2 separate regions of the Homo sapiens genome follow, and region 1 is linked to region 2. Evidence: fine-mapped expression QTL. A gene starts in region 2. The other region holds a variant in brackets. All regions are shown on one strand. Distances are between the middles of the regions.

Region 1 (5,371 bases), 52 kb after region 2:
CAGTGGATCACAAGGTCAGGAGTTCGAGACCAGCCTGGCCAATATGGTGAAACCCTGTCTCTACTGAAAAATACAAAAAATTAACCGGGTGTGGTGGCACATGCCTGTAGTCCCAGCTACTTGGGAGGCTGAGGCAAGAGAATGGCGTGAACCCAGGAGGCAGAGCTTGCAGTGAGCCGAGATCGCGCCACTGCACTCCAGCCTGGGTGACACAGCGAGACTCTGTCTCAAAAAATAAATAAATAAATAAATAATTCACACAGTGATCTTGCCACTGCACACCAGCCTGGGCAACAAACTGAGACTCTATCTCTAAAAGTATAATAATACTCTGAGTGCAGAGGCTTATGCCTGTAATGCCAGCACTTTGGGAGGCTGAGGCAGGCAGATCAAGTGAGGCCAGGAATTCAAGACCAGCCTGGGTAACATGGCGAAACCCCATCTCTACTACAAATACAAAAATTAGCTGGGCATGGTGGTGCATGCCTGTAATTCCAGCTACTCCAGAAACTAAGGCACGAGAATTGCTTGAACCCAGGAGGTGGAGCTTGCAGTGAGCTGTGATTGTACCAGTGCACGGCACTTCAGCCTGGGCAACAAAAATGAGACTGTCTCCAAAAAAAGAGAAAAAAGTAATAATAATAATAATGATTCAACCACATCCCTTGAATTAGTTTCTTATAGCTGTTGCAATAAATTACCACAAATTTAGTGACTTAAAACAACAGAAATATACTCCCCTGCAGTTCCGGAGGCCAGAAGTGTATAATAAGTCTTAAGGGGCTGAAATCAAGGCATTGGCAGGGCTGGTTGCTTCTAAAGACTCCAGGGAAGAACTATGCCTTGCCTCTTCCAGCGACTGGTGGCTGTTGGATCCCTCAACTTGAGTTTGCATCACTCCAATCTCTGCTTTCATCATCTCATTGCCTTCTCTTCTGCAGTCAAATCCTTCTCTACTTCCCTCTTATAAGGATATGTATGATTACATTTAGGGCCCACCTGGATAATCCAGGATAATCTCCCTATCTCAACATTCTTAACTGAATCCCTTCTGCAAAGCAATTATGTTATATATAAGGTAACACTGACAGGTTCCAGAGATTAGGGCTTGAGCATCATTGAGAGGGATTATTCAGGCTACCACTCTCCTTGATTTAAAATGTCTTTTGGCTGGGCACAGTGGCTCACGCCTGTAATCCCAGCACTTTGGGAGGCCAAGGCGGGCGGATCATGAGGTCAAGAGATTGAGACCATCCTGGCCAACATGGTGAAACCCCATCTCTACTAAAAATACAAAAATTAGCCGGGCATGGTAGTGGGCACCTGTAGTCCCAGCTACTCAGGAGGCTGAGGCAGGAGAATCGCTTGAACCTGGGAGGTGGAGGTTGCAGTGAGCTGAGATCGCGCCACTACACTCCAGCCTGGTGACAGAGTGAGACTCCATCTCAATAAATGAATAAATAGATAAATAAATAAACAAAATGTCTTTTCTCTTCTAACACCAGGAAATGAATCAAGTGATCAATAGGATAACAGTGATACAACCAGCCTGGTGCTTCTGTCTATGATAGTTGTGCTTTGCTTTTTTTTGTTTTTTTAAGTCAGTACATTTTTATTCAAGGAATTTCATGTTGTGATTTTTTCCCACTGTCCACCAAGGTCACTATAGATCCTCTAAAGAGCTGGAGTCAAAATTTATCTTCAAGTTAGCCCTTTTTAATGGAACTGAGGCATATTTTAATCTAGTTGTCCTGTCAGCCCATAATTCTTTTATTTTGGCTTCTGTCATCTCCTTTTAATGTGGATATAGTAGCTGGGCACAGTGGCTCCTGCCTGTAATCCCAGCACTTTGGGAGGCTGAGGTGGGTGGATTATCTGGGGTCAGGAGTTCGAGACCAGCCTGGCTAACATGGTGAAACCCCATCTCTACTAAAAATACAAAATTAGGCTGGGCGTGGTGGCTCACGCCTGTAATCCCAGCACTTTGGGAGGCCAAGGCAGGCGGATCACCTGAGGTCAGGAGTCCAAGACCAGTCTAGCCAACATGGTGAAACCCCGTCTCTACTAAAAATACAAAAATTAGCTGGGTGTGGTGTTGGGAGTCTGTAGTCCCAGCTACTCAGGAGGCTAAGGCAGGAGAATCACTTGAACCTGGGAGGTGGAGGTTGCAGTCAGCTGAGATTGCGCCACTGCGCTCCAGTCTGGGTGACAGAGCGAGACTCCGCCTCAAAAAAAGAAAAAAAAATTAGCTGGGCATGGTGGCACATGCCTATAATCCCAGCTACTCAGCAGGCAAGGCTGAAGAATCGCCTAAACCTGGGAGGCGGAGGTTGCAGTGAGCTGAGATTGCACCATTGTGCTCCAGCCTGGGTGACAAGAGTAAAACTCCATCTCAAAAAAAATTAAAAAAAAAAATAA[T/A]AATAATAATAATATGGGTACACTGAAGAAGACTTCAAAATTCACCAAGAATGTTTGGAATCTAATTTTTTAACCAACTTACTTTAGGGTCATTTTTAGCGTACGTGGATCTTCCTGGTTCTCAATTTGACACCCTCTCTAAACATGAATGAGTTTAAATCATATTCATTCCTAAGCAATCACACTCAAGAATAAGTACAGATGTGTGGAATATGCCAATACCTTTAACTCCAGATATCGTGTTCTCAAGATAAAAGCCTTTAAAACAAAAAGCCATCTTATGTATCAAGTCAGCATGAAATTGAAATACAAAATTAATATAGCTGAGGTTTTCCCTCATATCCTATGCTTTTAAATTATCTATTCTACAATCCTAGAATCAACATTTTTTTATTAAGAGACAGGGTCGGCCGGGCATGGTGGCTCACGCCTGTAATCCCAGCACTTTGGGAGGCCGAGGCGGGCAGATCACCTGAGGTTGGGAGTTTGAGACCAGCCTGACCAACATGGAGAAATCCCATCTCTACAAAAAATACAAAATTAGCTGGGCGTGGTGGCACATGCCTGTAATCCCAGCTACTTGGAAGGCTGAGGCGGGAGAATCGCTTCAACCTGGGAGGCGGAGGTTGCGGTGAGCCGAGATCCCGCCATTGCACTCCAGCCTGGGCAACAAGAGCCTGAAACTCCATCCCAAAAAAAGAGACAGGGTCTGTCTTTGTTGCCCAGGCTGGAGTACAGTGGTGCCATCAAAGCTCAGCACAGCCTCCAACTCCAGAGCTCGATCCTCCTGCCTCTGCCTCCCCTTCCTGAGCAGCTGCAACTACAGGCACATGCCTCGATACCCAGCCAATTAAAAAAAAAAAACAAACTCATACTGAACAATGAGTTCTGGGATGCAAAACAGGATTTATTTTTTGTACTTATCCATAAATATATATATATAAGTGCGTGCTGGTTGCTTTTTGTTGTTGTTGTTATTAGACCTCAAGACCATTGGGAATGTTTTTTTGTTTTTGTTTTTGTTTTTTTGAGACGGAATCTTGCTCTGTCGCCCAGGTTGGAGTGCAGTGGCAGGATCTCTGCTCACTGCAAGCTCCGCCTCCCGGGTTCATGCCATTCTCCTGCCTCAGCCCCCCAAATAGCTGGGACTACAGGCGCCTGCCACCACGCCCGGCTAATTTTTTGTATTTTTAGTAGAGACAGGGTTTCACCGTGTTAGCCAGGATGGTCTCGATCTCCTGACCTCGTGATCCACCCGCCTCAGCCTCCCAAAGTGCTGGGATTACAGGCATAAGCCACCGCACCCGGCTTATGTTTTTGTATTTTTAGTAGAGACGGGGTTTCACCGTGTTAGCCAGGATGGTCTCGATCTCCTGACCTCATGATCCACCTTCCTCGGCCTCCCAAAGTGCTGGGATTACAGGCATGAGCCATCGCGCCCGGCCTGGAATGGGTGGTTTTTTTACTACCTCTGGGTGAATGAGAAAGTACACTACAATAGCAAGAGAGCAGGAAGGGCAATTTATTATTTCTTTTCTTTTTTCTTTTTTTTTTTTTTTTTTGAGACGGAGTTTCACTCTTGTTGCCCAGGCTGGAGTGCGGTGGTGTGATCTCGGCTCACTGCAACCTCCGCCTCCTGGGTTCAAGCGATTCTCCTGTCAGCCTCCCGAGTAGCTGGGATTACAGGCACTCGCCACTACGCCTGGCTAAGTTTTGGTATTTTTTTAGTAGAGACAGGGTTTCACTATGTTGACCAGGCTGGTCTTGAACTCTTGATGTCAGGTGATCCGCCTGCCTCAGACTCCCAAAATGCTGGGATTATAGGCATGAGCCACCGCACCCAGCCAGGAGGGGCAATTTCCATTTGGAGTGAAGGAAGGGGCAGATTTGGGCGCAGGATTCTAATAATTGTTTATGAAGAGTTTCTATGTTTCATGAATTTTACATCTTTTATCTCTAAAAGACAATTTTGGCTGGACACAGTGGCTCTCACCTGTAATCCCAGCACTTTAGAAGGCTGAGGTAGGAGGACCACTTGAGTCCAAAAGTTTGAGACCAGCTTGGGCAACATAGGGAGATCCTATCTCAATTAAAAAATGAGCCAGGCTTGGTGGCACATGCCTGTGGTCCCAGCTACTCAGGGGGTGGACTGAGGTAGGATGATCGCTTGTGCCTGGGAGGTTGAGGCTGTAGTGAGCCAAGATAGCGCCACTGCACTCCAACCTGAGCAACAGAGCAAGAGCCTGTCTCAAAAAAATAAATAAAATAAAAATAAAAAGGTGGGCATTTTATAGAATAAGGAAGTTTAAATCTGAAAGGATTAAGCCACTTGCCCAAAGTCTTATAGCCAGTGAGAAGCCAGAGCCAGGATGTGAACTCAGGTCTGCATGATATGGATGCCAAAAGCCCAGGTCCTGGCCACCGTGCCAAGCTGCCTCTTGAGAAATAGGAGCTCCCCAGCCTCTAAAACATTACCCTCTTCCTGACATTGGCCCTGGAAGGTTGTTAGACCAGAACAACAACCAGGAGATGTTGCATGCAACTTAGGCACCCCACTTCAGTCATCTGTGATGCCTCAAGGACCAGAGTTCACAGTCTGTGCTTGGCACCCCCGTCAGAGCTTTGACAAGCAATGTGTTTGTTAGACATGTTGTCCTTTCCAGGCTCAACCAAACAGCTCCAGCCTGCCCGCGCTGACCAGCAGAGCAGGCCTCCAGGCTGAGTCACCGCCCAGGGGTGTTTCACAACCAACCTGTCTGTGCATTGAGGCAGCAGAGGCAGGAAAGGTCACTGGGTGGCCCATGTCACCTTGAGCTCCTGGACAGAAAGGTGGAGCCTGGCTCACCTGTACCCATCCAGTTCTCACCCGAGTTTTCTTTCTCTTCTTGTAGGCTCTCTCTTTAACCTGAGGTATTATCCTGAGCCAAGGGAAGTTTCAACAAGCTCCAGTTCC
Region 2 (5,371 bases):
ACAGGCGTGAGCCACCATGCCCACCCAAGGAGTTTGATCTTAATTCTGTAGCTGATGAAATACCAGTGAAGCCTTTTGATCTGGACTTTGACATTACATAGTAAATTTTTTTTTTTTTTTGAGACAGAATCTCACTCTGTCACCCAGGCTAGAGTGCAGTGGCACGATCTCGGCTCACTGCAAGCTCTGCCTCCTGGGTTCACGCCATTCTCCTGCCTCAGCCTCCCAAGTAGCTGGGACTACAGGCACCCGCCACCACGCCTGGCTAATTTTTTGTATTTTTAGTAGAGACGGGGTTTCACCATGTTAGCCAGGATGGTCTTGATCTGACCTCGTGATCCGCCCACCTCGGCCTCCCAAAGTGCTGGGATTACAGGCGTGAGCCACCACGCCTGGCCACATAGTAAATTTTTTAAATGAAAGCTGAAGCTGACACAGGGTAGTTTAGAGAGGAAGTTGATGCAAAGGAAGATTCCGTGACCAAGGGCATATGATTGTCAGGACATTTTGCTAGGTGACATAGAGCAGGAGATGGATGTCAAGATGTAGACCCTGCCAGCCAGGCGCGGTGGCTCATGCCTATAATGCCAGCACTTTGGGAGGCTGAGGCGGGCAGAGCACAAGGTCAGGAGTTCGAGACCAGCCTGATCAACATGGTGAAACCCTGTCTCCACTAAAAATACAAAAATTAGCCGGGTGTGGTGGCACTTGCCTGTAATCCCAGCTACTCAGGAGGCTGAGGCAGGAGAATTGCTTGAACCTGGGAGGCAGAGGTTGCAGTGAGCCAAGATCGGGCCACTGCACTCCAGCCTGGGAGACAGAGTGCGACTCTGTTTAAAAAAAAAAAAAAAAAAAAAAAAAAGATGTTGACCCTGCCCTCAAGGAGTTTACAATTAAAAAGATCAGATAAGCCAGACTCAGTGGTGCACACCTGTAACCCCAGTGATTGATTTGGGGGGCTGAGGAGGGAATATCGCTTGAGCCCAGGAATTTGAAGCTGCAGCGTGCTATGATCATGCCACTGTACTCCAGTCTGGGTGACAGAGCTAGACCCCATCTCTAAAAAACAATACTAATAAAAAGAAAAAAGGGTCAGATAAAACATGTACATAGAAAATTACAATACAAGGCAGAATGTGGCTGGACATGGTGGCTCATGCCTATAATCCTAGCACTTTGGGAGGCTGAGGTGAGAGAATCGCTTGAGCTCAGGAGTTTGAGACCAGCCTGGGCAACATATTGAGACCCTGTCTCTATTTACTAAAAAACAAAAAACAAAAACAAAAAAACAGAAAACAAAAAAACAAAAAACAAAAAAAACTAGGTAGAATGTGATACATGTGAAAAGAGATCCAGCTCAAGTGCCTTGGGAGCTCAGGGGAGGGTGAGATTAATCTCTTTTTCCCAAGAATCTGGAGGCAGGAAACCAAGTCGGTTTCATCTTTGGAATTGTAAGCTTAGACTTAGAAGTCTCAGAGGGGGACTTGGGGGTCTTATCCACCCTCACCCCTGGCAGGATTCCCTGTCTAGAATAAACAATAACTTTAAAATGGAAACAAAAAAAGGAGCTCTGAAGGAAAACTGTGAAGGAAGAGGCTCCGTTTGAAATGAATAGAAAATGAATTTAGCTTGGAGGTGCTGAGGTGTTGGTAGAGGCAACTTTCTGGCAAGAGGCGAGTTGAAGGCCAGGAAGTGAATGAGATCAGGGAGAGTGTCTGGAGGGAAGAGGGGCAAAAACAAACTGGGGAAGCACCCACGTTTTAGGAAGTGGGTGGTGAAAGAGGAGTCAGAGAAGGCCAGAGGGAGAGGTGAGCAAAGATCCAGCAGAACACCTTGTTACAAAGTTTCGAGGAGGGTGGGAGGGGTGGAAGCCAGGACGGGTAGCAGAAGGAAGAAAACTTCCAGCAATAGGGATTGAGGTTCCACACGAAGTTACCAATGACATTTCAAGGAATGAAGGCTTTTCCTGAGGCTCCACAAATAAGGTGAATTCCCTGTGTCTCGCATCTTTGGAGCTTCCCCGAGGCCAGGGGGAGCAGGGTTGTGCCCTCTGACCTCTAAATATCTGGGGTTCAGTTCTATAATTAGCAGCACCGGATAGGACGCGAGCCAAACCTCTCTTAACCCTAGCCAGTCCCTCCAGGAACTGAAAAGATGAAGAATTCATTTAGGAGATTTCACACTCGGCTGTTTGGCCTAGCCCAGTGAAGTCCCTTTTCATCACGCAACCCTAATGACTCTTAGGGCTGTCACTGCCGTCTGGTGTTGCCAGGGATCTGACTAAACCGTCTTGCAAAAGTTTGCAGCATTCACCCGAGGCGGACTACAACTCCCAGAATTCCGGGCGCTCCCCGGTGCTGATTGGCGGAGCCCGTGACTCCAGGGGGCGGAGTTTCCCCCGCCTCCCCGGGGAAACAGACCTCTGATTGGCTGGACCGCCGGGCTTTTGTGTCCCCGCCCTCCCCCGGGGACCGCAGCGGGCTGAACTGCTGGTGTCAGAGCCCGGCGAGCGCTGGCAGTTCCGCGGCGGGGATGCTGAGGAGCGCTGGGTCCGGGAGCAGCCCTGGCCCCTGCGGACTTCCGAGGCCGTGAAAACCCCTGCGCTGCGGCCCTTCCCAGGCCCCCGAGGCCGTTCGCCGTTCCCGAAGCCCGACTGGGGGAAGAGTCCAGCACCAAAGCGGCCGTTCTCGGATTCCGGAGCGTTCTGGAGCCCCGAGAGACGCCCCGGGGTTCTAGAAGCTCCCCGGCGGCGCCCAGTCCCGGCTTCATTCGGGCGTCCCTCCGAAACCCACTCGGGTGCACGGGTCGTCGGCGAGCCGCGACCGGGTCCTGGCGCGCACCATGATCGTGGCGGACTCCGAGTGCCGCGCAGAGCTCAAGGACTACCTGCGGTTCGCCCCGGGCGGCGTCGGCGACTCGGGCCCCGGAGAGGTAAGCGGCGGCCGCGCGACGCCCCTCTTCCCTGGAACCCCGAACCGCGTCTGAGCCTCAGGCTGTCCGGAGCTGAGTCGGTGTGTCCTGGGCTCGGGGAGGGAAAGCCGAGCGCGTAACCCGGGACCCGGGTTGCATCAACTGGCAGCCGCGGCCCTCGGCACCCCTCCCCCACTCTGTCTCCCCTCTCCCTCCTTCTCCCCCTCCCTCTCCCCCTCCTCCCTCCCTCTCCCCCTCTCCCTCACCGCCCCACCCCAGGGCCGCGGATCCTTCCTCGGCTCCCTCGGACTCCTGGCCAATGAGGGAGAAGCCTTCTGGAGGCTCTCCGAGCTTTGGGCTCCTGAGCGTCTTCAAGTCCAGGCAAATCCCGGCCGGAGCGGCCAGACCACTCCTCCTCCCCGCCCCCTTCCGCGGAGTCCCTTCCTCTTCGCGGGGGCCGGCGGGCAGAGGACCCTTCCTGGGGTGCCTCCCGGCTCCTGTCCCCCAGCGCGGGGCGTAGGCACCTGGGACTGGCCAGTGAAAGTCGACCTCATCCTATGTCCACCGCACTCCTGCTTTGGAGGGAGAGCGCAGGGGCTCTGGGGGCTTGGCGGGCCGCCCGGTACGCGGCGGCGGCAGCCAAAGCTGGGGGGAGAGGGGACAACCCTGGTCGCGGCTTCCGAAGCCAAGCGCGGGTTAGGCTGCGCCCTGCTAAGTAAGTGGTCTGAAGGCCCAGAAGTTTGTTTTCCAGAAATTCCTCCCCCACCCTCCCTTCGCGCCGCTCCCCTCCACCCCCCCGCATTCGCATCCCGGCATAGCCCGCAGGGGCTTTGCAGGGAGACCGGGAATTAGGCTGGACCTAACCAGACTGACAGTTCGCACTCCCCCACCACTACCAGCAGCAGCGATAATGGACATCTTATCATTTATTATGCACCTACTAGATACCAGGCTCTGAGTTTTTTTCGCCTTTAACCTAAGTCCTCAGGACTAAACCAGCAATACAAGCTACGCTATAGCCCCATTTTACAGGAAGAACATTGAGGCCCACGATGGGCTCAGAAAGAGGCTTTCTTCATTAACCCCACTGAATATCTTGTTCTTTGGCCTTATGATTTCGGAGATTGCACGGCACTAGGAGCTTCTAGTTGCTTTAGTTTACAGGCCTAGAGTGTGGTGGAAGTTGTATTCTGGACCTGGGATTTGGTGGAGTGCTATGACCCCAGGAAAATCCCTGCTTTTCTCTTAGTAACGTGGTTTCTGGGGATCCTACCTCCGTCGGTGTATAGTTTGTGCCCTGGTTTTTGTTAGCTTGCTTACCCTTCTCTGCCGTGATTTAGGAGCGCCATGTGGAGGAATGGCTCTTCTCCTGCAGCTTCTCAGCTGTGTGACTTCTTTGGAAAGATGGAAATAATGTTACTATTGAGAACACCTGAACACTAGAGAGCAAGAGTGCTGGGTTCATGTCCCAGCCCTCCTGCTAACTTGCAGTGTGTGGCTTAGCCAGTAATCACTTCTCTGATCTGTGGTTTCTTCCCATGGGGATTTTACAGTATCTCTAAGGGATTGTTGGGAGAATTAACTCAGAATACAAGCAAAAGCTGAAGCACTGTGACTGGAACATAGTAACTGCGTGATACTTGCTTGCTATTATCAGAACGTGGCCATGGCACGCACAGCTTTCTCCAGAGTGTCTCACAAGGGGGTGCCTGAGCCTGTTCCTGAGATCAGACACTGTACACCCCTCTCTGGGTCAGTGCCTGGTCTAGGGAGAAAAGGCTTTGAGGGAGGGATCTTTACACAGAAGCCATGTTTCCTCAGTGGAGAAAACTGCTGCTATCTGGGAGGTTTCTTTTTCTTATCTTTTTTTTTTTTTTTTTTTGAGATGGAGTCTTGCTCTGTTGCCCAGGCTGGAGTGCAGTGGCACGATCTCAGCTCACTGCAACCTCCATCTCCCAGGTTCAAGCAATTCTCCTGCCTCAGCCTCCCTAGTAGTTGGGATTACAGGCACCCGCCACCATGCCCAGCTAATTTTTGTATTTTCAGTAGAAACAGAGTTTCAGCATGTTGGCCAGGCTGATCTTGAACTCCTAACCTCAGGTGATCCACCTGCCTTGGCCTCCCAAAGTGCTGAGATTACCGGCATGAGCCACCGCACCTGGCCTATCTGGGAGATTTCTGTGTATTCCTCTCTCGAGAAAAGAGGACCTTCGGACGGTTTCTGCTTTGAGTGGTGGCATCCTTAGAAGACAGCAGGGTGCTGATCTTTGAGTCAGGTGCCCGAGGTCCAAGAGAAGACCCAGGCGTGCAGCTCCCTTAACTCCCTGTCACTTCACCACACACTCCCTTTCAGGAGCTCATTGCCTTCAGATGTGTGTATCTTCAGAAAGTTCCAAGGGCTTCACTCTAGTACTGGTAGTATTGGGCTCCCGAATAACTTTCTCGGCCAGATGCAGTGGCT

Alleles and levels. Positions count from the first base shown, and alleles are read on the strand shown. Sizes are in standard deviations (SD) of each study's normalised expression.
In carriers of allele A in region 1, the expression in neutrophils of the gene that starts at base 2,512 in region 2 tends to be lower than with T alone (large effect, 1.0 SD a copy in BLUEPRINT).

Evidence for each region. PIP is the estimated chance that this variant, and not a neighbour inherited with it, causes the effect.
Region 1: its variant is the best candidate, but not a certain one, in a credible set for the expression of SESN2 in neutrophils (BLUEPRINT, PIP 0.59).

Annotation. Positions count from the first base shown.
Region 1 is chr1:28,309,037-28,314,407 of GRCh38, forward strand. No RefSeq gene overlaps it. Among named protein-coding and RNA genes, the nearest start is that of MED18, 17 kb to the right of the region's middle. RefSeq lists an enhancer at 4,601-5,101. The variant T/A (reference allele first, on the strand shown) is at 2,419.
Region 2 is chr1:28,257,007-28,262,377 of GRCh38, forward strand. SESN2 (sestrin 2) reads left to right here and starts at 2,512. Exons shown (of 10, transcript NM_031459.5): 1 at 2,512-2,931. The coding sequence starts at 2,842. RefSeq lists enhancers at 2,083-2,262, 2,255-3,103 and silencers at 2,373-2,582, 3,363-3,422.